Homo sapiens: one gene and its partner. The gene in region 1 interacts genetically with each later gene. Each region holds a gene or a part of one and is shown on either strand. Other genes may lie near its edges. The genes, in order: RAB18 and EIPR1.

Region 1 (7,293 bases):
TCAGTGGTATACTTTTATAGATGTTCTTCTCTGCTCTTCTTATTGTCTCAATTATCCCTTTTAGAATGACCCTGTATTATTCTTACAGCCAGGGGGAAAACCTCTCTTCTTTAAAAAATGTTTATAGGCCTATGGTAAAAATGTCTCTTCAATAATACCTGCCAGCCTTTTTATTAGGCAGGAACTAGAAAATAAATTTAAAACAAAACGAAACTATGAGAGAAAAATCTCACTGCAACCAGCAAGTCTCAGATACTACTCTAATCTACGGATTTCACAAAGCAGCAGCAAGGCCGGAAAGGGATAATAAATTAACCATGAAAAGCATATGGAAATCAGGCCCCCACTTTAGTATGGAAAAAGCCAACATTCTTATATCGTTCAACACATTTTACCATACTCTAGTCCAACATTTTCCAAATTGTTTTCTGTTAGACATTACCGTTCTGATTGATATTAAACATATTTGGGGGAAAGGGGCAAACAGGTTAACAAATTTAAAGTATTGTATGTTAGGAAAAACTGACATAAAAACATTAAACACACTTACACAATTATTTGTTATTTGGGGATAAATGTGTATTAGAAACAGTGTGCCATTCAGAGAATGCCAAGAAATATGACATCATACAATGCATGAACACTTGCTGTTTTCAATCTGTGACTGATGTACAAACAGCATTTACCATTTAACCACCATGTGGAAATAAGTCTCGATTTGATGACTGATCAGTTCTAATATGATTTCTTATATTACAAACATATATGTATAATTATCACAGTCTATGTGAAAAATAGATATATAAAACAGTATATATTTAGAATATACATATATATATATAACCGATCATATTTAGATAGACAGATATAGATAGATCGGTATGTGGGTGGGTAAATAGACTGATGAAAGGGAGACACAGAGAGAGACAAACATAGACACTAAGCATCTTGGATATTTTTGACAGTTAATGCTACCTTATTTGACACTAGCATGAGCGGTCTAGCTAGTACAGTAACGGGGATCAGAATGGTTGGATTGACAGGAAAACGAAAAGAAGCCAGTAAGGAAAAACGAGGCATTAAAAATAAGCCCAAAGTTTGAAACCTCAAATTTTATAAATATCTATACTAACAAACAAGAAAAATAAAATTTTTTCCTAAATATCACGTCATTCCTCCTCCCCTTAAAAATTGTCTTTAGTGTTAGTTCAGTCTAGATGGTCTTTTTAAAACTTCAAAGAAACATATCCAATTATGATTCTCTTTGGCAGATGAGATGATTTTTTAATATTCTGTTCTGTTTTGAAATATTCATAAAGAATTATGCATTGTGAAAATTTAAACAAAACATAGCTGCCTAATTACCCAATTATAAGACATTACTGTTTATCCTTTAATCAGTATCAAATCTCCCAAAAGTTATTTAATACAAATTGTTCATTCACCACCTCTAGAACACTACACAAATCAATTTCTGCATCCTTAAAAAGTAAAGTTTAATATTTTAAAAATACATTTTAAAAACTCTTACCCATATTGCAAGTTTAGCCTTATTTCCATCCACTGAAATTGTTTTCACCTTAAAGTCAACACCTTAAAGAAATGAAAATTTTGATAAGTCTCCCAGTAAAACAGACTTTTAAAATCCATTACCAAGAAAACCAGAAAACAGAAAAGTCACTATTATCAAATGCCCAATTCACACCCCAACTTCTTAGAATTCTGGATGTGGAGATAAAAAGTGTCATTAAAATCCAGGATCTTAGGATTTAATCAGGATAAATGAAAATCAAATGCTTGTAGAATTCACTCACTCACCTACCTTCTATTCTTCCAAAAAGGAAAAACGAAATTCAATTTAAGGTGATAACTCACTATGCGTGTTAAAAGTCAAGAGCTGCAATTACAATGCTCACATAAAGAAGACTATCCATGGCTGACTGTGGGTCATGGCAGCTTCCAGGGGCTCCCTAAGCATCCACATGCTACTGTTAAGAGTGCTGTCCACTGCCAGCCAACCACTAACTCAGATCTTGACTGTAAGCAGCTTGGGGAACCGGTAAAAATATTAAAGGGCCACTCACTCCTTGTCATATAATCTCTTTATTTTTATCCTAAAAAAATACTATTTTTATGTAATAACCTAATCAATAACTTGCTACAGCACAATTTCAATAAAACAATTTATACATGAAAACATTTATATACAACCATCTAAGAATCTTCATAAGTGAAAGAGGAGTGCCCAAAGTTCTATGAAAAGCTTCTATAAGTACTAATTTATGTAAAGAAAAGAGTTTCATAAGAAGTCCACAAGGCTTTATTACAGCAGCCAAAAAAGAAACCTCTCCCTTTCCAGGAAAAGGAGTTGACACATGCCATCTGGCTTAAATGAACAGCAACTGCCCACATGTCTTTCAAGAGTTCAGTCTACCCCACTGGCCAGAGGGAAAACATTAGCTCAAGAAGCTTGGAAAGAAACTTTCAAAATATCTTATTAGCTTGTCACAATTAATTCAGAACAGCCCCAACTAAGATGAACAGCACCCTCACATACTAAATGCTTAATAGAACACCTGTCACCAATATGGAAATATATTTGTAATTCTTGGAAGACTTGTGGTGATCCATTACATATACAAATTCAGTAATAAAAATGCACATTCAAAATGTGCATTATGCCAGGTCTTTCTGTATACCAAATATATATATTTTTAAGTTTGGTGTTTTGAGCTGGGGTGATAAAGGAGTTGATAAAGCCTAGAATGATGGGCAACCATTAGTAAAAGGACAGTGTTGATTACATAGCCCAACAAAAACCTAAATATAAAATTTCTTCACAGCCAAACAAACAAAAAATCCCACATGCTAAATAATCTTGTATTAACCAGGTCTAAATAAAGAAGTTACTATGCCATTTTAAAAGTGGAACCATCTACATAAACAACATGAAATTATCTACATTTTCTTCCTATTGCTTTAAAAAAAAAAAAGCAAAGCACAAACCCTGAGAAAATTCAGAGGAGGAAAATGGTTCTGACTTGGTGCAGGTACTAAATGACAGCCACTGGCAGACACTACACAGAGATAGCCTCTGTCATGCACACTCTACAGTTAAATTCTCAAGGTTTTTCAGGGAGTATATAAAGAACTAATTTTTTTCCTTAATAATCCCAGATACATGTTCAAGAGCAGACAAGCATCTTTCCTATGAGCTAATTTGTTTACCCAAGAAAAGAAACCCACCGCTTCCAGAATGTATGTGTTTTCTTCCCATACCCCAACTCCTCTTTCTCTATTATTATTTCCTGGTTCTGCAAGTTTGTTGTGAACAGTCTAATGACTGTCTCTGACATAAGAATAATTTGCATGTGGATAACTAACAATGTCTCTAAGTTATGCTTTTGACATATTATATCTGAAACTTACCAATACCCATCCACAGGAGACACTGAACACTGTCGTCCTGCCATCAAAGCCAACAGACACAGGTAGCCTGAAGGGGCACCTAATCTAAATCCAGACCCCTAAAGTCCCCAGTCATCTTCCCTAGGTTCCTCTGGTGAATCTCACATGCAGCAATTGAGCTCTTCAGATCTCACATGCTAAAACTGCTTCTTCATCATGCTTCTCTTTTGTTAAGTGGCTGATAATTTATCTTAATTGGTAGCAGCAGTGGGAGTCTTTTTGAGAGATTTGATTTTGCCAGTTTCTTACCCAATTTGATTAAACTGTGTCTTCAATCTCTTCATGTGGATAACATGGAGCTCACAACAGAAACAGAAGAACTGTCATCTCAGCTTTTCCTTGTTCATTTGTGTTTGCATTTTTAATATGATCTTTAATTCAGTTTCTTTGCAAGAATCTTTTTTTAGGCACACTGGTAAATTTTCATGTTGCACTTACTGCTTATTTCAAAGGCTCCATTAACTATATTATCTAGTTTTAACTAAAATAACCTTCATGAAAAAGGCCAAAGAAAATATGAACTCAACAGTAGATATATGTGAATGGGAGACCAGAAGATATTAATGGAAGCAGAAGCACACATCTTGTTGAAGAGGAGAAAAATCAATCAATAGAAACTGACTCAGAACTGACACAGATGTTACAACTGTACACCACATGTTCAAAAAGTAGACATGAGTGACATAAAAAAGGATCAAACAGAACTTTCTAAAGATGAAAATGGGCTGGGCACAGTGGCTCACGCCTGTAATTCCAACACTTTGAGAGGCTAAGGTGGGAGGATCGCTTGAGGCCAGGAGTTTAAGACCAGCCCCAGCAAAACAGCGAGACTTCGTCTTGACAAAAATAAATTTTTATTTTTATTTTTTTTTTGAGACGGAGTCTTGCTCTGTTGGCCAGGCTGGAGTGCAGTGGCAGTGATCTTGGCTCACTGCAAGCTCTGCTTCCCAGGTTCATGCCATTCTGCTGCCTCAGCCTCCCAAGCTGCTGGGACTACAGGCGCCTGCCACCACGCCCGGCTAATTTTTTGTATTTTTAGTAAAGACGAGGTTTCACCGTGTTAGCCAGTATGGTCTCAATCTCCTGACCTCGTGATCCGCCCGCCTCGGCCTCCCAAAGTGCTGCGATTATAGGCGTGAGCCACCGCACCCAGCCAAAAATAAACTTTTAAAATTAGCCAGGCATGGTGGCTTGCGCCTGTAGTCCCAGCTTCTCAGGAGGCTGAGGTACAAGGATGGATCGAGCCTGAAAGGTCGAGGCTGAAATGTGCCGTGGTTGTGCTACTGCAGCCCAGCCTGGATAACAGAGCAAGACCCTGTCTCAAAAAAAAAAAAAAAAAAAGGTAAAAATGGCAATGTCTGAGATGAAAAATACACTGGATGGGATTAACAGCAAATTAGGCGCTGCAGAAGAAAACATCAGTGAATGTGATGACACAGCAACAGAAACTACCCAAAAGGAAGCAGAAAGAAAAGGTTCAAAGAAAATGAGAGACCATCAATCATCTGTGGGACAACTTCAAGCAGCCTATTATGCAAACAATGGAGTTGAGGAAAAAGAAGAGAGAAGGGGGGAAAATATATCTGAGAAATAATGGCTGAAAAATTTCAAATTTGATGAAAAATATAAATCCACAGATCAAAAAAGCTCAATAAGCCCCTAGCAAAAAAAAAAAAAAAAAAAAAAAGAAGAAGAAAAACTCGGAGACATCATAATGAAATTGTTCTAAGTATTTTAAATTAAATATTTTAAACAAAAAGAAAAACAACATCAAAATTTGTATGATGCCACTTAAGCAATACTTAATAGGAACATTTATAGCACTAAACACCCATATTAGAAAAGACAAGTGATCTAAAATCAATGACCTAGGCTTCTAAACTAAGACAATAGAAAAAGCAGCAAATTAAATCCGAAGAAGTAGAAGAAAGAAAATAAAGTTCAAACCAGAAATTAAAAACAGAAAAACAACAACAAAAATCAATGAATCCAAAAGTTGCTTCTAAAAGAAAACCAATAAAACTGATAAACTTCTAGTCAAATTGATCAGGAAAAAGAAGACAAAAAAAATCATTACAAAGGATGAAAAAAATCACACCATTTATAGATTGTACAGAAGTTAAAGGAATGACAGAATGTTATGAACAAGTTTATGCCAATAAATTTGACAATTCAGATAAAAATGGACAATTTCCTTGAAAGATTAAAAGCTACCAGAATTTACTGAAATAGATCACAAAGAAAATATATATAGAATATAGATAAAAAAGGAAATGTGAAGAGAGTCAAAGCATATTATTATGAAAAATCCCTAAACAGATAAGAAGGCAGTAATGGTAAGAATTCAGGAACAAAAACTCTTTAAGGAAATAAATAGCAAAATGGCAGAAGTCCTTCCTTATTGGTATATTAAATGCAAATAGAATAAACTCTCCTATCAAAAGATTGGCAGAATACTTTTTAAAAATTCAACTACATGCTTTCTATCAGAGATTCACTTTTGGTCTAGAAACAAATATAGGTTGAGAGTGAAAGGACAGGAAAAGATATTCCATACAAATAGTAACCAAAAGATAGCAAAGGTAATTATTCTAAAATCAGACAAAATAGACTTTAAGTCAAAAACTGTTAGGAGACTAAAACAAAATATTTTGATAAAAAGGCCAATTCTCAAGAAGATACAACAATTATAAACATATACACCACAGAACAGAAGTCCAATATATACAAAGCAAACACTTGATAGAATTAAATGGAAAAATAGTGTTACAACCATCAGAGATTCTATTTATTTATTTATTTATTTTCCTAAACACAAGCCCTCCACTGAAAATACTGATTATTTTTATTGCCTGACTGAATTCCAAAACGTCTTTTTTTTCCCCACAAATTACATTTTATTTAGATTTTTACAATTACAGTTTCATTACAAAGGATACAATATCAGGACCAACCAAAAAGAGAAACACATAAGGATGAGGTCTGGGAGGGTCCCAAACACGGAGCTTCCATGCGTCTCCCCTTCCTCTCCCTGCAGAACCAGAGCACATCACCCTCTTGTTTTTTTTTTAAATCCTCCCATATACTTTATCCTATTTTTTTTTTATTTCAATAGGTTTTTAGGAAGAGGTGGTATGTGGTTACATGGATAAGTTCTTTAGGGTAATTTCCGAGATTTTGGTGCACCCATCAACCGGGCAGTGTGCACTGTACCCAATGTGTAGTTTTTTAAATCCCTCATCCCTCTCCCACCCTTCCCCGAGTCCCCAAGTTCCACTGTATCATTCTTATGCCTTTGTGTCTTCATAGCTTAGCTATCACTTATAAATGAGAACATACAATGTTTGGTTTTCCATTCCTGAGTTACTTCACTTAGAATAATGATCTCCAGTTCCAGCCAGTTTGCTGCAAATGTCATTATTTTGTTCCTTTTTATGGCTGAGTGGTATTCCATGGTATGCATATGCCACATTTTATCTACTCATTGATTGATGGGCATTTGGGCTGGTTCCATATTTTTGCAATTGTGAATTGTGCTGCTATAAACATGCATGTGAAAGTGTCTTTTTCACAGGATAAACAGTCGGAGATTTTAATACACCACTTCCAATTATGAATAGTGTACTGAGATATATTATCAACAGAAAACAAAGGGTTTGAAGGCCAATTAGAGCCAACAGAATACTCCGTATAACAACAAATTTTTTTCAAGTATACATGAAACATTCTCCAGGATAGGCCATATGTTGGCTACAAAACAAGTCTTAATACATATTAAAAAACCGAAATCATGCAAACCATTTTTCTGATTACAATGGAATAAAC
Region 2 (4,642 bases), on another chromosome or scaffold:
GCAGCACGGTACACCTACTGGCGGGGGCGCTGCAGCAGGAACGTGTCCTTTTTGCAGGTCGGGCAAGACTTGTCCTAGAATCGTCAAACCCCAGAGCTGATGGGCCTGTGAGCTCAGCCCATCCTTCCCCATCATTACAGATGAGGTGATCGGGGCAGCAGAGCGCAGAAGTGGCCCCTGCGGGGACACCTGGCCAGGTGGAGGCCTAAGGGAGATGGAGCCCAGAGTCCAGGGCCCAGGTGGCTTCTCCAGTGGGAACACGCACCAGACACAGAGAACAGACCCCGCACACCCAAAGGAACCACGAACAGAGGCTGCGAGGTCAGTGTTTGAGGATTCCTAAGGATAAGCACTGATGAGTGTAGGAGCCTGTGAGGGGTCCCCGACAACTGAGACGCGGGAGCCCAACCCCAAGCTCCGAGGTGAGGGAGGACGGCACCTCCAAGGCCACCAGTGCGTGCGCGTGGGGAGGAGGCCCTGCCCGGCTCACAAGGTGGGCAGGACACAGCACAGGATGGGCTGCAGAGACCAGGGGAGGCCCAGGGCGGGCAGAGCCTGCGTCTACAGCAGTGAAAATGCATCACACCAGCTCAGCCCAGGGCGCGAGCCAGGTGCCCACCAGCAGCCAGCATGGCTCCCGGGAGTTCCATGCTAGGGCGGCGTAGACAGCACACGTCTGTCCATCTGCATTTTCCCTGGGTCAGGAAAGAGAAAATGGACAAAGACCCAGGAGATGGGGTCACAGGGCAGAGCTCCTGAAAGAATGAGCCGAGCACCTGTGCAGCGTGGATTTATTTTATTTCATTTTTTACTCTCAAGAGAAAGAAGAGTTACTATTGCAGGAACAGACATTTTTTTAAAAAGCGAAACTCCTGACACCCTTAAAACAGAAAACATTGTTATTCACATAATAATGTGGGGCTCTGTCTCTGCCGACAGGGGCTGGGTTCGGGCATTAGCTGTGCCGTCGACAATAGCCCCATTCACCCCATTCATAAATGCTGCTGCTACAGGAAGGGAACAGCGGCTCTCCCAGAGAGGGATCCACCTGGAACACGAGTCACCTCCAAAGAGCTGCGACTGTTTGAGAATCTGCCAAGAGGAAAACCACTCAATGGGACCTGGATAACCCAGGCCCGGGAGTCATAGCAGGATGTGGTACTTCAGGGCCCTGGGCACCCTGTTGATCACGAGCCTCCCGTCATAGCTCAGGGAGGCAAACAGCCACGGGTCAGCCGAGGACCAGTCCACGGCATAGACGCTGTCCTCGTGCTCCTCGTAGGTGGCGATCACGTTGTCCTGCAGGGGCTCCTTGCTCCTGCAATGCAACAGAGGCAGACGTGAGCGCAGCAGCTCCGGCGGGGCGGGCAGGAGAGGGGCAGGGAGGACGCGAGCGCTGACATCGGGAGACACGGGAGGTACTGGGGCCTCAGCTTTCTCCGCTGTGGGATGGGAAGAATTAGAGGAGCCCACACCGAGGACGGTGGGGTGGTCCCTGCAGAAGCCCAGAAACCCTCACTGTCACTGTGAGGAGTGGGCATTTCTCAAAAGGTTTATGGAAATCGGCGACATTGGCACATGGTGTCTTGGTTTCTTCTGTCCTTGGCCCCCGGGTGCCTGGGTTGATATTTTGTTGGAGGTCTTCCAAGGGCTTCCTTTAGCTCAGGGGAAAGACTGGGGGAAGTAGTCACCGTGTCTGGGTAACACAGGATGTAAACGCCCCTATTGCTTGAGCAGAAAGGACCCTGGGAAGCAGCGGGTCCAGCTCCTGGCTGTGTAGGAGTCAGAGGCTGGGGCACAAGGAGCCTTGCTAGGATGGGAGTGGGGCTGGGCTGAGGATCCCCCAGGACACCAAGAGGAAGACGCCCTGGCCCTGTGGGAGCAGCAGAGGCGTGACCTGCCTGGCCTCCCCCAGGGTGTTTCCCACCTCGCCTCCCTTGACTGTGAGTTACCCTCACTGGGAGCCCTGACCAGGGGATCCTCACACAAGAAGCACCACTTCCTCAGCACAGCGTGCATGGGGAGGGGGCCCTGCCCGGCTCACAGCGGCCACTTTCCGGTGGACACAGGCTTCTCTGGCACTTTACTTCCCATTTCACAAAAAAATTCCCACATAATTTGTGTACCGCATTCTAACTGCTTTTGCATTTCTTTGTAGGAAAATGCTTCACCCCCCCAGCAAGACGGACCCTCCAGAACTCGCATGGTCTCTGGGAAGCTGGCTTCCCACAAAGTGGACCTGCCAGTGGTCAACTGCTGTTGTGGGACAAATGCCAGGTGCAAATCCTTAGGAGGAATCATGGTTTCCTGAATGCAGCAGGACATCAGGACTGAGGGATGTCCTAAGAAGTCTGCGTAGCCCCGATCACCTCCTCCCTTCCTATCTTGCTCCCATGACATTGCCGCCCAGAAGACAACGCCAGCAGTCTTCCGACCAACGGGCCCATCAGGCTCCTCCCCTAACAGGGACAGACATGGTGAGGAAGTGCAGACTCCCTGGGCCACTGGCAGAGAGGACGGTAAAGGGAGCCAGGCCCACAGGCACCGAGAGACCACTGGGCAGATGCTACCGTGCGTGTGCTTAAATACTATTCTATGGCAGACCGAGTTTCTAAGGTTTGAACAGAAAAACAACAGAGTCTGGCTCATGCCTGTAATCCTAGCACTTTGGGAGGCTGAAGTGGGCAGATCACTTGAGCTCAGGAGTTTGAGACCAGCTTGGGCAACATGGCAAAACTCTGTCTCTACAAAAAGTTAGCCAGACATGGTGCCATGGGCCTGTTGTCTCAGCTACTTGAGAGGCTGAGGTGAGAGGATCACCTGAGCCCAGGAGGTCAAGGCTGCAGTGAGCCATGATCGTGCCACTGCACACCAGCTTGGGTGACTTTTTTGTTTGTTTTTGTTTGTCTCAAAAACAAAACAAAGGCAACAGAGTCAAGAGACAAACAGATGGGCCCATCGCCACTGCAGAAAGGGTCCAAAGACAGAGACAATCAGATGGGCCCATCGCCACTGCAGAGAGGGTCTGAAGACAGAGACAATCAGATGGGCCCATCGCCACTGCAGAGAGGGTCTGAAGACAGAGACAATCAGATGGGCCCATCGCCACTGCAGAGAGGGTCCGAAGACAGAGACAATCAGATGGGCCCATCGCCACTGCAGAGAGGGTCTGAAGACAGAGACAATCAGATGGGCCCATCCCCACTGCAGAGAGGGTCCGAAGACAGAGACAATCAGATGGTCCCATCGCCACTGCAGAGAGGGTCTGAAGAAAGAGGTCTTCTCACAGAGGAATTTTAGACCAAGCTCAGGTGGGTAGGGGGAGAATTCAGACAAAAAACAGTGCAAAGGATCCCAAAACAGAGTGACAGACCCCATCGTATCTAAGGGCTCTGTCCAACTTCACAAGGTTTTATTCCAGAACCTCCTTCCTCTGGAACCTGGGGCAAGAATCTCTGCGGTTGCAACTGAATTGCATCTAGTCACCCCCCAGGAAGCGGCTGCCACTTCTAAAGGTGGACTGCTCAAGGACACAGGGGCCCTGGCACTGCACCGCTGACCAGAGGCGGGCATGAAGAGGCTGCCCTTAGCGATCTCCCATCTCACCTAGGATCAGAAATCAAGGTGCATAGGAAAAAGCTTTGGGAAAATCCAGAACCATGATGGTGTGACTAGAAAACCCACATCATGGTTGACCACATTTTGTAGAGTATCTAGAAGTGAAGTAGGACCCGGGTTTGAGACTGGGAAGGTTGGCCTGGAGTCTCCGCCCTGCTACCAGCCAGTGGAAGGCCCGTGAGCTGATGGCCAACAACCCGACCCCAACACGCTCAAATCCACGCCAGTGAAGACACTGACTGTGATGCGTCTCTTACAGGGAGTGCTGTGAGGATTGGGATATATTCGTTCTATTATTATTCATGCTCAAGTTTGAAGACCAGTGAGTCTTTTAAATCTTACAGATGGCATTCAATAAGAATACAAACACAAATAGATCTATTTTAAAACCGCACCTAACCCTAACGCACCTGCAGTGCCTCCCACCTGGGCTGCTAATGACGGCACCCCTGGAACTGTGAGTCCCCACAGCTGCAGTGGGTAAGGAGAGTGTCCCCCAAATGCACTCCTGGAAACTTTCTACATACACAGCCTGGCTCGGGAGATGGCTGTGCAGACAGGAGGCTCTGGTACAGCGTGAGCCACTCTGCAGTGCGTGCCCTTACTTCTCTTCAGAACGGTGGTCCTCCTGGTCACTGATGTCATCGTCGTCTACCAAGTGGCCGAAGGGCTCCGACGAGATGGACACCATGTTGGAAAGGATGACTCTGCTGTCACTGCTGCCCGTGAGGACCAGCTGGTCATGAGAGTGGTTGTAGCGGACGTTCCACACCCTGCAAAGGGCAAGGCAGCTGCTGAAATGAACTGTCACCCGCAGGCAACACCAACAATGGATCACACCGGCTCTGAGGGCCCCACTAGGCTGGGGCTCACGTTAGGCACTGCCAGGCAATCGGCCCCCAGTCACAGGGCCTGACATAAGGCAGTTTTCCGCTGAGGTTGGGTTTACTGCAGGTTTCTCTTAAGTCCCAAGAGACAGACAGGGAAGACTAAATGTTGGCTGAAACCTACAGGAGGAGAAGGC

What was found.
Region 2: changes in RAB18 (region 1) and EIPR1 are lethal when combined (synthetic lethality), as found in Homo sapiens cells (one study listed by BioGRID).

What each region holds. Positions count from the first base shown.
Region 1 is NC_000010.11:27,521,128-27,528,420, reverse strand, and holds part of RAB18 (ras-related protein Rab-18), read right to left. Parts: intron 1,594-7,293; coding exon 1,532-1,593; intron 1-1,531. UniProt on the Homo sapiens protein: The small GTPases Rab are key regulators of intracellular membrane trafficking, from the formation of transport vesicles to their fusion with membranes.
Region 2 is NC_000002.12:3,188,191-3,192,832, forward strand, and holds the end of EIPR1 (EARP and GARP complex-interacting protein 1), read right to left. Parts: intron 4,392-4,642; coding exon 4,224-4,391; intron 1,319-4,223; coding exon 1,144-1,318; 3' UTR 780-1,143; downstream 1-779. UniProt on the Homo sapiens protein: Acts as a component of endosomal retrieval machinery that is involved in protein transport from early endosomes to either recycling endosomes or the trans-Golgi network.